Regions from separate parts of the Homo sapiens genome. Here region 1 is linked to region 2. Evidence: fine-mapped expression QTL. Tissue or cell type: fibroblasts. Region 2 holds a variant in brackets; the other region holds the start of a gene. All regions are shown on one strand. Distances are from middle to middle.

The links. PIP is the estimated chance that this variant, and not a neighbour inherited with it, causes the effect.
Region 1: GREM2 starts here. The variant in region 2 is fine-mapped to the expression of GREM2 in fibroblasts (GTEx, PIP above 0.99). The same link has a PIP of 0.9 or more in tibial artery.

The regions. Positions count from the first base shown.
Region 1 is chr1:240,608,753-240,616,862 of GRCh38, reverse strand. It overlaps GREM2 (gremlin 2, DAN family BMP antagonist), which reads left to right and starts at 4,708. Exons shown (of 2, transcript NM_022469.4): 1 at 4,708-4,979.
Region 2 is chr1:240,419,293-240,427,402 of GRCh38, reverse strand. All of the region lies in intron 15 of FMN2 (formin 2), which reads right to left. Among named protein-coding and RNA genes, the nearest start is that of GREM2, 190 kb to the left of the region's middle. The variant G/A (reference allele first, on the strand shown) is at 4,008.

The sequences.
Region 1 (8,110 bases), 190 kb before region 2:
ACCACATCTGGCTTGGTTTTCTGACTCTTTAAGCTTATGTTATTGCTATCAAATGACAAAGTTAGCTACAGATAGAGAGAGAGATAGATAGATAGATAGATAGATAGATAGATAGATAGATAGATGGATGATAGAGAGATAACCCTAGTTCAAGCTCATCAAAAGGAGAAATCTGATGGACAGCCACCTCCCATTATCTCTGCATGGGTGGCAGATTGGCTCCCTTTGAGTCCAGCATGCTCTCCTAGTCTGGTGTCTGTAGCTGTAGGGGCAGATGAATGTGATACTTCTACAGCTATCTATACTACTATCTAGGTCTCCTTCTTCACCTGGGCTATCGGGTCTGGGAAAGAGTTAAGGAAGTGGCAGGTGCCATGATGGAGCCATTCTGGCCACTCCTTCAGCTACATTTGTCAATCTGAATCTTAGTTTAACCATCTCCTGCGTTCACCGCTTATATGATGTCATAAGCACATGCAGGTCAAAGGTGGCTCTGCCTTCTCTTCACTCTCATTTTGCCCTCTTCACCTCTACCCATCCACATCTCAGAAGTAAGAGTACGGCGCAGAGGCCTTGCTGACATCTAATAAGCATGGGCTAATGAATCAAAAAACCCACAACCACCTGCTCCCTGGGTCTTAAGGGAAAATATAGGGATTGAGCTGAATACATGGTCATTCCCTTTCCTATTAATTTCCCCAGCTCATCTGTGGGTTGTGTTCTCTGCTCCACTGGGGTGACACAAACATGACAGATGGCACTCTCATAGACAAGGAGTTTATTCTGCGACACAGTGAGAGCTATATATTTTGCTATAAAACTCTTATAAATCACTCATATATTCTGGGTAGAATCACCATGACACAAGAGAGATAAATGTTATTTAATACATGTGAACAGTTGAAATTTGTGAACCGCAAGAGCATAGATTCATATGTATCAGTGAATCATAAATATAGATTTCATTTTGAGGTTTTGATGTAAACATACAGTATTAATAAACAAAGTTAATGACTTTCTAGAAAATAAAGGTTTCTTATATGGTGGAGGAATAAATATTGAATAATCAGTAAATTGAAGAATTTACAAACTTTGTGCATCAAAAACACTTTAACAATTTAAAAAGTAAACTATGATAATCTAAGAAATAATTATAGCTATAAAAGGACAAAACAAGCACGTACGGATTTATCAATAAATCCATAAGTTAAAGGGAAGCTATTAAGATAAATAAAGAGATAACCAAGGGGAAAACATTAGCATTAGAATGGCGTCCAACCTAGGCTAGAAAGAAAACACATGAATAGGTACAGACAAGATCAAGAATGTGATCTTACGCTTATCACACTGGGAATGCAATGTCAGTCTTCGGCAAACTAGTCATATGGAAATCTTGTATCTTTGTATAGTAGAGGAAGAATTATAAGCTCTTCTACTTTTTCTTTTTTTTTTTTTTTTTACTTTTTTTCTTATTACAAATTATACATATTCATCATAGAACACACAGATATGTCAAAAGAAGGGTAAAAGACCATCTGCGGTCATCTATAGTTCAGAAATATACTTAGATCGTAATCATAATCTTTTAAAAAATTTAATGGCATACTATGAAAATTATTCAATAAAATTGTAAATTATTCTGTAATATAGTAAAAGCCAATAATAGCATCAAAGATGATTTCGAGCTGAAGTAAACCCTAGGTTACTTAGTCTGACCTTTATAACAATCCCTTCATAATCTCTGCAAATGACTGTGAGTACTTTTCTTGACCACTTCATTGACCTATATCAAAATCTCCAAATCATCACTTTGCCAGGAAATTCTTTCAATTTCCGAAAGCTTTAATTTTGAGAAGTCTTTTGCTATCCTGATTTTTGCCTACCCTTATTTTCTCTCCAGAACAGCACTGGGTTTCGGGTCCACTTCAACTTATTCCCATCCTCTGGCATCGTAACTGTGACTACATCAGGGTGACTTTACTATACAAACTCTTTTAATCTCTAAAATTAGCCTAGTAGCATTTATCTTACATTCCTCATAGAGTTGTTTAAAAAAATCAAGAAAGAAAATGTTTATAAAAATGACAATACATTTGAAGCATTATCTGAATAATAAACATATTTCCTCTTTTACCTTTACTGTTTGAAAATGTTATCATTTTCACCTCAGTTCCTACTCCAAGATGCCTGATTCTCTCTTGCATCTCTTATAAATTATAATATTCAGAATCATCATCTTATCAACTCCTTTGGATACATGCCAATTTGTGAATATCTCCTGTAAAAAGTGCCACACTGAACTAAGCAGGATGATCCTGATGTGGCTGAATAAGTGGAAAATAAAATGATTGTTCTGTCATGAATCTGCCCGGCTGTCCGCTGCTGTGCATGCTGAGATGCAAGCGTTTTTATTATTACGGATGTCTGTGTCATTTATAAAGGATTTAAGAAATGTCTTTGAAAAACTCTTTTAAAGGTAGCAAAATGACGAAAAGACTAAATATAGAATAATAAACACTGACGATTTATTTTCCCTTAACCACACAACTGATGGGGTATAGATGTCCTTTAAATCATCCAGTTTTGCTCTTCATTAACTGAAGGACAGAGGGCTTGAATTATTATCTAAAATGAAGTTTAAGATAGATCTGTGACTTTAAGTCACCCATGATTTCACTTACACTGTCTTTTCAGTGCTATGAAGAGCTATAATGAGCCCTGAAAATAACAAGCACAAAATACAATGATCTACTTGGTTTTCTCAGTAACTGTTTCTCTCTTTTCTAGAAAGGCAATTCGAAGGCAAATTATTGGTAACTTATCTGAAAATAACATGACCCGTTCTGAAATAACATAAATGACTATTTACCAAGTTGGACAGATGATTTCATGAATTGTTAGCTCTTCTGTGCAAAGGCAGGCAGGAATGAGAGTCAGCTGTGTTAACCCTTTGCTTTCCTTTGAGTCAAACAGTTTGTATGAACAAACAGGGCAGTCATCCACTCTCCCAGCTCTATTTGCTGTCTGCCTTCAGCAAGTCACTTTATCATTCCTCCACTCTGTTTCTCCACCTGGAAAATCTGGAATATCATACCTATAACTCCTTTTTTTTTCGAAGACTGTTGAGATCTTTAGAAGAAATACATTCTACACTTTCAAAGATTTATGACAGTATTTTGTTTTTAGCTGCCTACCTAAAGAAAGGGAATGAACTGGAGTTGTTGAAGCAATAAGGATATGCCATTTGAGGTTAGACTGTGGTTAGCAGGAACCAACTGCTAAACGTGGTTTTGTTTTGTATTTCCTTTGTCAATTTCAGCTGATTTCAGGCAGGCCCATTCTGAGAATAAGGCTGCATTTCACAATTCCTGTAATGTGCCCACGTAAGAAAGAAGGCAGGTAGTCTGTTTGGTGATAGTATATTTCAAGAACTAATTGTTATTTCCTGTGAATTTGCAACCCAATGTGCTGTGAGTTGAGTTGGAACTAGAATATCAAATACCAAATAGCATACAAAAGGGATAACACTGCAAAAAAAAAATTCAAGTCAAAAATCAAAACAGAGCTCAGAGATTTCAGAAGCAATGGCTTCTTGTCAAGAATAACTGTCATTAAAATTTCCATAAGCACCAGTGAAATTGATTTTGGGGAAAAGTCTAAGGGAGGGTCTGTTTTATAAGACACACTGAAACTTTATTTTATTCTGAATTTCCCCAGCCAAGTTTGTAAGATCTCAGATTTTTCTTGGGCCCTTTCCCTGCCAAGGGGCCAAAGGTTTATCTCTATTGACACATACAGATAAAAAATTTTCATCCAGGAACCTCTATCAGCAGAGTCTGAATAGTCGTCTTTGGCTGGTGAATCACACTAAGGGAGTCTCAGTCCTGAGATGATCAGTGGTGAGAAGTTCAAAAAATAATGAAAAGAGCAAGCACTTAGGCGTCACAATACGCTTCTGGTATAACGCACCAAGCCGATGGAGCACAAGAATTGGTCTGGCGTCATTGTTTTATGTTCTCTGGATGTTGAAGAGTCTGATTTGCATTAGAAACCTCTGCATTCAATAAACAAAAATCAGGATAATAATGACCAAAGTACTATTTGGAACAGAAAACAAATTCAAGCAATGGGTGTTTTGCACTGAATTCATTCAAGATTTTATTAGTTAAGCTCTCACTTAGGTTATTAGGCTCAGCTTGCTTTTTATTTCACTGGCCTCAGTTACTGCAAACAAAAGGAGCCTGGTGTGTGTGTGTGTGTGTGTGTGTGTGTGTGTGTAAGCGCACGTGTATGAGAATGTCAGACATATCACACACAGGCTTTCTACATTCTTCACATTGGAAACCCATCAGCAAAAGGAAGAAGATCTGAAGGGAATGAGTGTTTTTTTTTTGTTTTTTGTTTTTTTCTGGTTTAGGGGATGGAGGGAGAATTTCTCTACATAAACAAGAAGGTTAGAATTGGAAGTCTGCTAAAAAAAATGTTAGAGCTGACCACAGGGTTGTAAATCCACTGACTGGAAGGAGGAAAAGAGAAACATTGCAAGCGACTGAAGTGTGTGGTGTGGCTGCAATGTTTGTGGGTTAGATGAGAAACAAGCGCTGAGTGAAACAGAGAAGGGGGGTGGCTGGTGTGATTTGTTTGGTGTTCAGAGCCAATAGAAATCCCAGACTCTGATAATATCCCCATGCAGCGCCGAGAGGATTCAGAGCTAAGTCTCCGGGCTCCTTTCACATCTGCAGGAGCAGCCAGCCTGGGACCGCGCGGCGCGGGGCGCGCTCTCGCCTCTCCTGCACCCTCAGCCGGCGCGCTTCTCTTATGGGCGTCTGCTGCAGTCTGGCTGCGGTCGAACTGAAAGCGGCGGCGGGAGACCAAACTTAGACCCCGCTGTGGACTAGAGAACTCAGAGAAGGCAGAGGGAGAGGGAGAGAGAGAGAGAGAAGGGACCCGAGGAGGAGGCTTCCATCACGTCATTGCAGGTACGCAGCTTGTCACGACTAACGTGACACAGACACGGTTTCTGATTTCTACCTTCACCAGGCACTTAGAATGAATTGACGTTGTTTGTTCCGTGGCTGGTCAGGACCGAAAGCCCTGAGTGGACGTCTCGCCGGTTTCACCCCGGGTAATTCAAGCTGTTGGCGTGTGTCTGGGGGCCACAAGGTTTATTCACCTATTGAATTATGCGTGGGTGTAACATAAGGACCTTCAAACTTGACCGTGATCGCTCTTTCTTTCTCTTTTAAATAACGTCAATACCAATATGTTGTCATCCCACCAATAAATACCTCTTGGTGACCGCCATTCTAATCATGACTATAGCGAGGCAAACACCATCCAATTGTTAGAAAGCGGGCTACGAACCTCTCCCACCTACCTACCAGGTTAATATCCTCCCTACAGGAATAGGAACCACAGCGGACTTCGGCAGAGTTTTGATTTTTTAAAGCATATGGCCAAGGTGCACCCGCCTCATGAGGGAAATATCACTATTATCACTACGCTGTGGTTGAAGGAGAAGAGAGAAGGGAGGTAGTTATTTTTTAACGTGATTGTCAGTGATCCTTCCTGTGTACCTGACTTATTTCTACATTGTCTTACGAGTTTAAAAATGCATTTGTATTCTGCACGCCAGGCACGTTCAGTTCCAGGATCTCACATATTACTACATTAAAAAGTCATGAATTGGAACTATCTAGTAGATGTGATAGTTGTAAGAAAATATTGATGTTTGATTTTATTTTATTTGATCCTAAAACTCATAAACTTCTATTTCTTTTTTTTTTTTATTTTGAGGTGTGGGTTTTGTTAAAAAAATCTATTTCCTGAGATTTTATCATGTTTGATTTGAAATTTTAAAGATAGTTATATAACTCCCCACCCCTTGATGACTTGTGATTAAATTAGCATTGCTTAATGAGTTCAGTCTTTCCTGGGAAAAGCCAGAGGGGACTGCAAGAAGTCAGTTAAAAAATTGGTCTTGCTTTGCAGTCTTCAAGGGCTGGCTGGTATTCATGTGGCTCTGAATCCCTATGAAAAGCGCTTTTTCTGCAGTGGAACAGATTGGGACTCCAGTACAGCCAGAGAATGGCTCTGCAGCAGGTGCAGGGGCAATCAAATACCTTACCTTTCGTCTAAACAGCACTCTTCCCAGTGGAGTCTTAGTCGATCATATCCAAACCATTCACTGATAATTCGCAATCGACTCACCATTCAGCCGTGCTTAGCTTTCAAGGTAGCCTTTGTCCCAAGACATGTGCCCGACCAAGGAAGATAAGAAAGTTATAAGAAAGGTATTTGTGTTGTATATCACAGTGGAGAATTTATATCGACCTTTTTTTGTTTGTTTGTTTTTTGTTTCTTATCAGATGAACATGTTCTTTCTGTCATTAAAGGAAATGCATGCTTAGCTCTACCATAGAGTCAGGAAAACTTCATAGTTTTTGCCCATCGACTGATCTGAATGATTTAACTGGGTGCTTTTTGAAATCGTGTCAAAGTATAGACATGGCAAGTGAATATTATATTTGGGAGAAGGCATTTTAACTTTATAGATAAATTTTTTTTCCTTTTACATCAGAAAGAAACTGTAAAGAACTGATCTGTGCAAATAAATATAAGTTAATCGACCCAACTACATTCTATTGGTAAAGAGTTGTTTTGTATGATTGTGAGCATTTGTCAATCTTTTATAAATAAAATAGCTGCAATAAGTTGGGACCTATTTCTGTCTTATCTTTCTAACTCTAAAGCAATGTTGGGTGTGTTGGTAGCAACTTTGTGAGTGTGAGACGGATTATATTCACTTTGTATAGACTAGGAGACACTGATGGCTTTTCAAAGATAAATATAAACAATGCTGTGATTATTCATTGTTTTTTGCTATCATTCTTCACCGAGAGAGGTAATCAACAGTTCATTCTCTATGAATCTTAGTAGAGCCAGCCAGAGCTTTACATACCCTCGAGTTATAAGTTTGGTAAAGTTTAAACAAGGTACATGCCTTTAAATCTCTTTAAAGTAAACATCTCTTTTTCTAATGCAAAGGAATGGTATTAGACTCTCAGTTCTTATTGATATGGAGAGGATTGGCCTGTCTGGGTCAAGGGCAGACACTGAGAGACTGCAGAGGCACAGGCACTCAACAGATTAGTTCAGCCACTTTTGTACTTCAGTGTTGCTACAGCAATTGCCCCTGTGCAACGTGCCAGGTTGCAGGCATGTTCTCAGTATCAGGGTCCTTCAAATATCTACGGACAAAAAAGAATTATTTCAACCAGGGAAAACGTGCCCAGCACTCGGCTTAAATGGGTCACACAAGACATTGTTTTGAAGGACAAGGTGTTCAATTAAAAATTAGACCTATGGTGCCATCTTCTTCTTGGATTAGCTGCTTCTTGATAGTTCTTTTGTTTCTAATAATATTAGGTATAATAGGCCTAATAATGTCTAGAATTAATTTTGATCACATGTCAGGCTAAAATGTGGTCCTCAGACTCAACACTGACCAATGACTTGAGCAGATTTCCCATCACCACCACTTCCAGTTGGAAAGATGTCTTTAAGTGGCCAGCACATTGATGGGACCCAGACGGTGTTGGCGCACTGATTTGTAGAACAGAGTCCCAGAGCCACATGGATGTTAAGGGGATGGAACGTGAGCGGGTGGAAGCACAAGGGTATAAAGTGACATGATATAAAGATTGACATGCTTCAGTATAAATCCTGGAGCCAAAGGAAAATGAAAATGAATGTATTTCCTCTAATTACCTTCAGATATAGATTTTTGATTAGCTTCAAGTATACATTTTTGATGAGACATCCTGAATATTTTAAATAAACTCTCTTGTGTTCTTAGGTATATCCCACACAGGTGTGGGGGGAAAATAAATGCATTTGATGTACTGTAACACTCCTGTCTATACAGGCCAGGAGAGGGCAGCATGCAAACTCTGAAAAAGTGATTTGATACCTCCCCCTGACCATGAGGAAGACTCCGGTCGCCAAATGGCTAAAAAATCTCCCTCCAACTTGAAGTGCCCTCTTCCCTTTGGAGAGCCAACTCTAGAGTCTTAGTAAAGGCACACCATCCAGAAGGGTTTGTTTCTAT
Region 2 (8,110 bases):
AAACCCCGTCTCTACTAAAAACACAAAAAATTAGCTGGGCGCGGTGGCGGGCGCCTGTAGTCCAAGCTACTCAGGAGGCTGAGGCAGGAGAATGGCGTGAACCCAGGAGGCGGAGCTTGCAGTGAGCCGAGATAGCACTACTGCACTCCAGCCTGGGAGACAGGCGAGACTCTGTCTCAAAAAAACAAAAACAAAAACAAAAAAAAAACCATATATATATATATATATATAAAATCAGTTGTAACATACATGAACTAATTGAATTTTTGAACAATGACTTGGTATTTGGTGATATTAGGGCCTAATCATTTTTTAGGAGTGAAACTGGTGGTGAATATGCTTTCTTTTAACAAGGGTATCTTGGGCCTGGCACGGTAGCTCACGCTTGCGATCCCAAGCACTTCGGGAGGCCAAGGCGGGTGGATCACCAGAGGTCAGGAGTTCAAGACCAGCCTGGCCAAGATAGTGAAACCCCATCTCTACTAAAAATATAAAAATTAGCCGGGCATGGTGGTGCGCACCTGTAATCCCAGCTACCTGGGAGGCTGAGGCAGGAGGAGAATTGCTTGAACCCGGGAGGCGGAGGATGCAGTGAGCCAAGATCATGCCATTGTACTCCATCCTGGGTGACAGAGCAAGACTGCATCTTAAAAATAAATAAATAAAATAAAAGGGTATCTTTTAGAGAAACATACTAAAATATATATGGATGAAATTATATCTGTTGGGGATTTCCTTCAAAAACAATATGGGAGGAGGCAAGCGGGTAGGGTTATAGAGGAAACCAAATTGACTACAAATTGATAGTTGTTGAAGTTGAGTGATGGATAAAATGGAGGGTCACTGTACTATTCTGTTCACCTTTGCACATATTTTAACTTTTCCATAATAGAGTAATATTTTTAAAAATCACAAGTGCATATACACACAACATTGGTACCACAAAGTAATAGCTATACACATCTTTTAAAATGGCATTCTAGAAATATTTTTAAGAGGGTAGAATATTGCTTTAAAGACTTCTACTGGATATTGTTTTTGACGATGACTTATGTTCCACAGATAATAAAAATAGACAGCTTTGATTTTTTTTACTTGAAAAGAGGCCATACCACAAACCGAGAACTATTTTATATTCTTTTCAACTTCTCATCTGTTTTTAAGGCAATTCTCTGTCTGGGAATTGTGCACATAAAGAATGACTCAAAATTTGGTTTTTATTACAACCAAAAGAGGTGCTAGTAATTATCCTAAAATAGCATTTTCTTGCCACAAGTTATGATCTCTTTGGAGAAGCATATTCTCTGCAAATGAAACACTATTTAAATAGCATACTGTGGTATTACCAATAGTTATTTCCCATCTATGAGCAGGATTTACTCTCGTTCAAGTATTATTTAAAATCTTGAATTAAAGTCCAGTAATTTTAGTGGTGTTTACTCTGTTGTAGTCTTAGAAGAGGGCACTACAGCTTTGCCCTTATTCATCAGGGAGCAGGTAGTAACTATATGCCAGGCACTACTCATGGCAGAGTGAAGACAAAGAAAAGTGTAAGCTCTGGTTGATGACTTTCTTGAAAAACATTCCTAATGGGTCAACAAATCAAAGAGTCAAGGTACAGAACAAAGCCATTCACCACGTTCTCCCTCAGGTTCACGTGCTGGCAGACATTACCATATGCTCTCAATCTTGGATCTCCTTCTCAACAGTTTCTCTGCTTACCAAATATATGCTTCAAGAAGGAGAAACCCTTTCCTGATCAGGGTAAACCCTTTCATGATCCTGTTCAGAAAATGATAAGCACTGTCTCATGTTTATTCTACGACAACCAGAAGCATATCTAAACAACCTAAGAGAGCACCTTTTGATGTGTGGCAGGTAGCTCCGGAAATGATTCTGAGTATAGAAAAAAAGAATGGATCCACAAAAGCAACTGGGGTGGGGGGAGTAAGCTAAAGATGAGCTGACTTTCAGAATCATAAGTGTTTTTACTTTACTTTTGGCTAGCTGATGCCAGAGAGGCTTCCCATTCCAACTAGAGCAGTAATATCCCATCTTTACCTACCGAGTTTTCGCTTCTGTCATTCTGGCCTCACAGAGCATGACGTTTTGATGCCATACTTGTTTTTCATCTGCCTGGAATGCTCTTCACCCAAGTGTCTCACGGCTCTCTCTCTCTCTCTCTCTCTCTCTCTCTCACCTCATTCAAATCCTTGCTTAGTGAGATCCTCATGAGAAGCCAAAGTAAAAGCTGAACACTTGGCCCAACCTTCCACAACAGCCACCCCTGAATATTCCTTCCTTTTCTCTACAGCACTGACCGCCATCAGAAACACAAGATATTTTCTATGTGTGATAACTATGGCTCTCCCTCCACTAGGATTTAACCTCTTTAAGGAATTTTTAGCATTTATGTTCATGGCTTTATTCTCAGGCACCTGAACAATGCTTGGCACACAGGAGTTGTTTGAAGAATGTTTACTTAAAGAATGACTGTCTCCTGAACAAGGGGCCTAGACATTTCTGGAGGCAAATTTTTTGACTACGTATTAGAAGCAGTCTATTAACCTCAAGCCATGTCTTCTGTGGACTTTGAATATGGATAACTAAGATTTAGTTCTGTCTCTAACCCAGAGTGGTGGAGCTTTGTCGACATAACTTTTTTGAGCTTTGTTCCCCATTTATAAAAGAATGACAGTACTTCCTACCCAATCAGACACCTGTGAGCATCCTTATGGGGATGCCAGGTCCACAGTAAGGTCTACGAGTGAAGGTTCTGTTATCAGTGTGGCAGCCAGAAATAAAAGAGCCTTCTTTAGCCATCCTGGTGTATTTGGAGTGTGATAAGACAAGGAATCTATTCTTCATACAGAGAAGTTAAGGAAAGCAATTCCTTTCCCTCATTCCCATATCCCCACATAATTATGAGATAACTCATGGCATTTATATAAATTAAAACTGATGTCAATATGTCTGGTTTCCAAGAGTACAGCAAGCCAGTGCCACAGTGACTTGATCACCCTTACCCATTTCTCCTTACTTATCTATAGAGTCTATCTCACTTGGCTCAGAAGAAAGTCTGCAGTAGCTACTGCCAAGAGAATTTCTCATTTTATTTATATGGAAATAAAAATATAATCTTTTTCCCTGGAATCACATAAAAGATGGACAATCAGAAATTATATCCTTTAGTTTTGACTCTTTCATATGACTCTATTTCATATTTCATGACATGTTGCTCATGTACACCTATGTATGTATACACAGACACAGAGCTTCCTGCCACCTGTTTAACAGACGTATCAGAATCAACAGTTAAGCAAAGAGACATGCTGAAAGAAATAAATTTGTTTAATTCAACCTCCCTTTCCTCCCACCACAAACATACCTGTAGTTATCAGTAAAACTAACATCACGATTCAGATCTGAGTTGTTTTTATGTTCTGTTGGGGTGTCCAAGCTTTGTGTAGACAGGAACAGATCATTTATTAATTTCCTCTCCCTCTATTGTGAATGCCAACCAGCCTTGGGACCAATGTCCTCCCTCCCTATCTCAACTGTCAATGCAGCAGTTCTGGCTATTTTGAGACACTGTGATGTTTATGTTGAAGGGTAGACATGAAGGGACTCGTGAGGTCTTTTCTTATGCACACATCTATGATTGGACTGGCCTTTTGGCGAGTCAGCAATTCAGTTCTGGCCCAATCTAAATACACCCTGGGGGTCTCTGCCTTTCTCTCTGGTTCTTCTGTGATGTTTTCCTCTACTTTCTTCTCCCAATATCATTGTCCTTTGGGAGTACAGCAAAAAAGGCTGAGTACCAAATGAGACTTTACAGGCAGAATGAGAATTGCACATGTATAACTTAATTTAATCCATATAGGCAGAACCAAGATCATAAAGCCTCTCAGTATGACAGACGAGGCCAAGAGAGCATACCAGTTTAAACGAACTGCAAAGGAACATCATCATAAATCTTCCATTGCTTTTGCGTTTTTTATTGTGCA[G/A]TGTTGGATTTTGTAATATTATTCTTCAGAACAAACTAAAATCTCAAGAGGAAGATCTATTTTCAGTTAAAGCCTTCCACAAGTAACTTTAATTTTTGGAATCCTAAATCATCGTCTTCATTTCCACCTCCTTCCCCCACCCTCCATAGGAACTTACATAAAGTGTAACAAATTTTATTACTCCAATAAGGAAGAATAAATCCCCTTTCACTTATTATTAAAAAAGCCTTTGAGGGATCCTCCATGTCTTCTAAAAAGCACAAAGATATTTTTATGCCAACACTCAGTTTGTTGCAGGCAATGAAAAAATCAGAGGAATTCAGAATGGTAAGAGGATAAACTGGCATTTCTTTTATCTTGAAATGAAGAACTGTGGTACTTACACCTTCAGGGTAATTGTGACCTCAGAGCAGCCAACTGCTCTTAGAAAAAAAGGTAATTCAACCCAAGAACAAGTATTAGTTCATACAAAAGGTGGAAGAGAAGTTTGAAAATCTAAGTGACACATTTTCAGGTACTGACTGGCCTTGAGGGACAATGTAAGCTGAGACCCATGCTGATCCCAAAGATCAAGTAACTAAGAAAAGTTCCTAAAATTAGGAATCAGACCATTATAGTCAGCGTATATTTGTCTTATATTTATTGCAATAAGACAAAAAAGGAAATAAAAGATATACACATTGGAAAGAAAGAAATACAACTGTCCCTATTTGAAGACTAATACGTCTATGTAGAAAATGCCAAGGAATCTACAAAATAACTCCCGGAGCTAATACACAAATATAGCAAGGTTGCAGGACACAAGTCAATATACAAAACTCAACTGCTTTCCCATATACCAGCACTGAATAATTAAAACTTGAAATAAAAATTATATAACTTACAGTATCACCAAAAAATAAAATACTAAGGTATAAACCTAACAAAATGTGTACAAGATCTATATGAGGAAAACCACAAAACTCAGATGAAAGAAATCAATTTTTGGAAAGAAGAACTAAATAAAGAGATACTCCATGTTCATGAATAGGTAGACTCAGTAGTCAAGACGTCAGTTCTTCCCAACTTGATTTATTGACTCATTTCAATCCCAATCACTTTCCTAATGAGTTATTTTGTAGATATCAACAATTGATTCTAAAATTTATATGGAAAAGCAAAAGATCTGGAATAGCCAACACCATACTGCAAAATGATGTTGGAGGACTGATACTATCTGACTTCAAGAGTTACTATAAAGCTATAGTAATCAAGACAGCATGGTACTGGCAAAAGAACAGACAGACAGATCAATGAAACTGTAGAACAGAGTGCCCAGTAGACTCATAAAAATATAGCCAACTGCAGGAGGAGTAGGTGGCTCTCTCCTCTCTCCCCATGCAGGTCCAGTTCTCACTCTCTGCCTCTTCAAACCAGGAAGCTGGTGCTCAGGAGCCATGACCTGGTGTCTCCTGCCCATCCTGGTCCCAGGTAAATGTGGAAACAGGTATGAGAGCCTGTCCTTGTCCTTGATTTCCCCCACCCCCACCACAGGCCTCACAACACTGCTACCTAAGAAAATGTTCTCCCATCCCCTGCTAGCCTGGTCAGTGGTCATCAAATTGGAAGAGGATCTGACAGGAGTGTAAATATGAGATAAAATGTCTTGGTTGTACCTGCTTGTGGTTTAGATTTGTATTTAAACAAACAAGGAAATAAACTTGAAAATTATTGGTCATAATAAAAAATGAAACAAGAAAAATTAAAATATTTATTGCCAGGCCAAACCCACACCCCCCACAAAACAAATATAGTCAACTATTTTTTGACAAAGGAACAAAGGCAACTCAATGGAGAAAGAATAGTTTTTTCAACAAACGGTGTTGGAAAATTTGATGTCCATTCTAAGAAAAAATGAACATAAACATAGACATCCGATCTCCCATCTTTCACAAAAATAAAACAGACAGACCTAAATTATTGGTCAACAATTTGTAGAATGGTGGCAATAAAAATTAGGTAATTTGAACGTGTTATATTATCTGGAAAAGGGACAAAGATGTTAAATAAATATTGTTAATTTAAAGGTAGACATTAAAATTAAACGAAATGAAATGTATCATTTCCATAGCATCAGATGTGTACCATCTGAAAGGTACACACCTTTCAGATCTTCCACATTTCCAATTGCAGGAAAAAAAAGTTGGCCAAGGGCCTTGGCTGCCATGCTCTGAAACCAATCACTTCATTTGCACGGAGGTCTAGGTTTGTTTCAGGGTAGTGAGTGAGCTGCAAGAATACTGATACAAGTGCAATCCTACAGACACAAGACTCCTCTAAAGGGGACTTTGGCTCAAGGACTCCCCATTGGCTTCGACAAAACTTTCTTATAATTGCACTGCAGTCCAAGACTTTTCTCACCCAGCCTTCCTTCCTTCCCTCTCCTCCATGGAGGTTGGACCTGCATCAGGTCTAACAGCTGTCCCAGCTTCCTCTGGCTCCCTTCCTGTTTTTCCAAATAAATCCAATCTTGGCACTTGCTTTTTGTAGAACCTGAACTAACAGCAGGAGCACAAGTAGTCTGCGAGAACCGGGACTGAGATGGAGTTCTGGGACAGGTTCTCTTACCGGCCCCCTGTCCTGTGTGGGAATGTGGGGCATGGGCAGTCTCTGGCACACGGTGGCTATGTGATTGCTGAAGACATCACTAGAGCTAATCTGATAAAATATCCTGGTGTCCACACCAGCTGTGACGGCATCCACACCAGCACATTTTATCAGGTTAGCTCAGGTGATATCTTTAGTAAAAATGTCCTGGTGTGAACACCATCACACCTTGCAACAAATGGCCCGCCCCCTCAGAAGCTACCAGCTCTTCTCTTGGCTGCAGGACAATAGGACAACAATTAAGGAGACATCCCTGGAAGACCCAGCTAGGGAAGTGCTAGGCCTGAAAAGGGGTAAGAGATCATATATGGAAGGTGATGCAAGAATTAGCTACCATGTAGTGGAGCGATTCAGGAAGAGGCTCTTCTCTTATAGGTCTCTTCTGAGTGATAGCCAATTTAAAGAGGAGTAGGTGTGCTGGGGTTGCCCTGGCAGATGGAAGAGGAAGGAATGTGGAAGCTGAGAGAAGTAGGCACACCAGCATGCATTGTGTGAGTCCAGAAAAACTGAGCAAAGGATTATCCATGGAAGTTCCCAGAGGCCCCACCCAGAGGCCATAAAGAATGCATCAGGAAGAGGGGTATCAGCATCACTGAACAGTGCAGTTGGAGCTCTTCTCTGTAGGAAGAGGTTGCAGAGCTGGGCTCATTAAAATCCACTGGGATGATAGGATCCTAAATAATAGGGTCCAAGTGGTAAAGCTCAATGACCAGAAGCCCGGGTACCACAATTACCATAATAACCAAAAAGCCAAGGGGCAGCCAAGGAGGCCTGACTCTCAGCGGATTGTGGAGATGGTTAGTGGAGCATAGCATCCTTAGGGGCAAATGACAAGTGTGCTGCTCAACCTCTATGACCACAGAAAAGGGCAAGAGTGGGAAAACAGGAGGCTACAGGTGGCTGCTCTATAGAAAATCATGATTCCTTGATCAGTTCCCAGAACTGAGCCAATTTCAGATCCAGGACCCCCTGACCAAAGGAATTGCATCCCTGTGAGGAAGGACCCTGAAACATGGTAGCAAGGATACACTGTAATGTTTCCCCTAGTCCTTCTACAAAGAAACCTGCAGCCATCACTCAGTAGACTGTATAGTGCAAAAGGGAAATACTCAGATGTCTCGAGGGCCACAGGACACAGGGTCTGAGGAGACACTGATTTCCAGAGACCCACAGCTTCCACATGGCCACTTCCATTACTGCGGGAGCTTACACGGTCAGAAGTAATGGAATCCTGGCAAAAGTACAGCTTGTAGTGGTCAATCACCCACTCTGGGTACACAACTGGGATTGATGCCCTCAGGTGTTTGAGGAATAACCCTCACACTTTTTTTTTTGCCCATAAGGACACAGAAAGGTTGAAAGTAAAATTGTGGAGGTGCTATGACAAATGCGAACCAAAAAGAGCTGATATGTACCAATATTAACATAAGGCAAAGTACAAATTTAGGCAAAAAGCA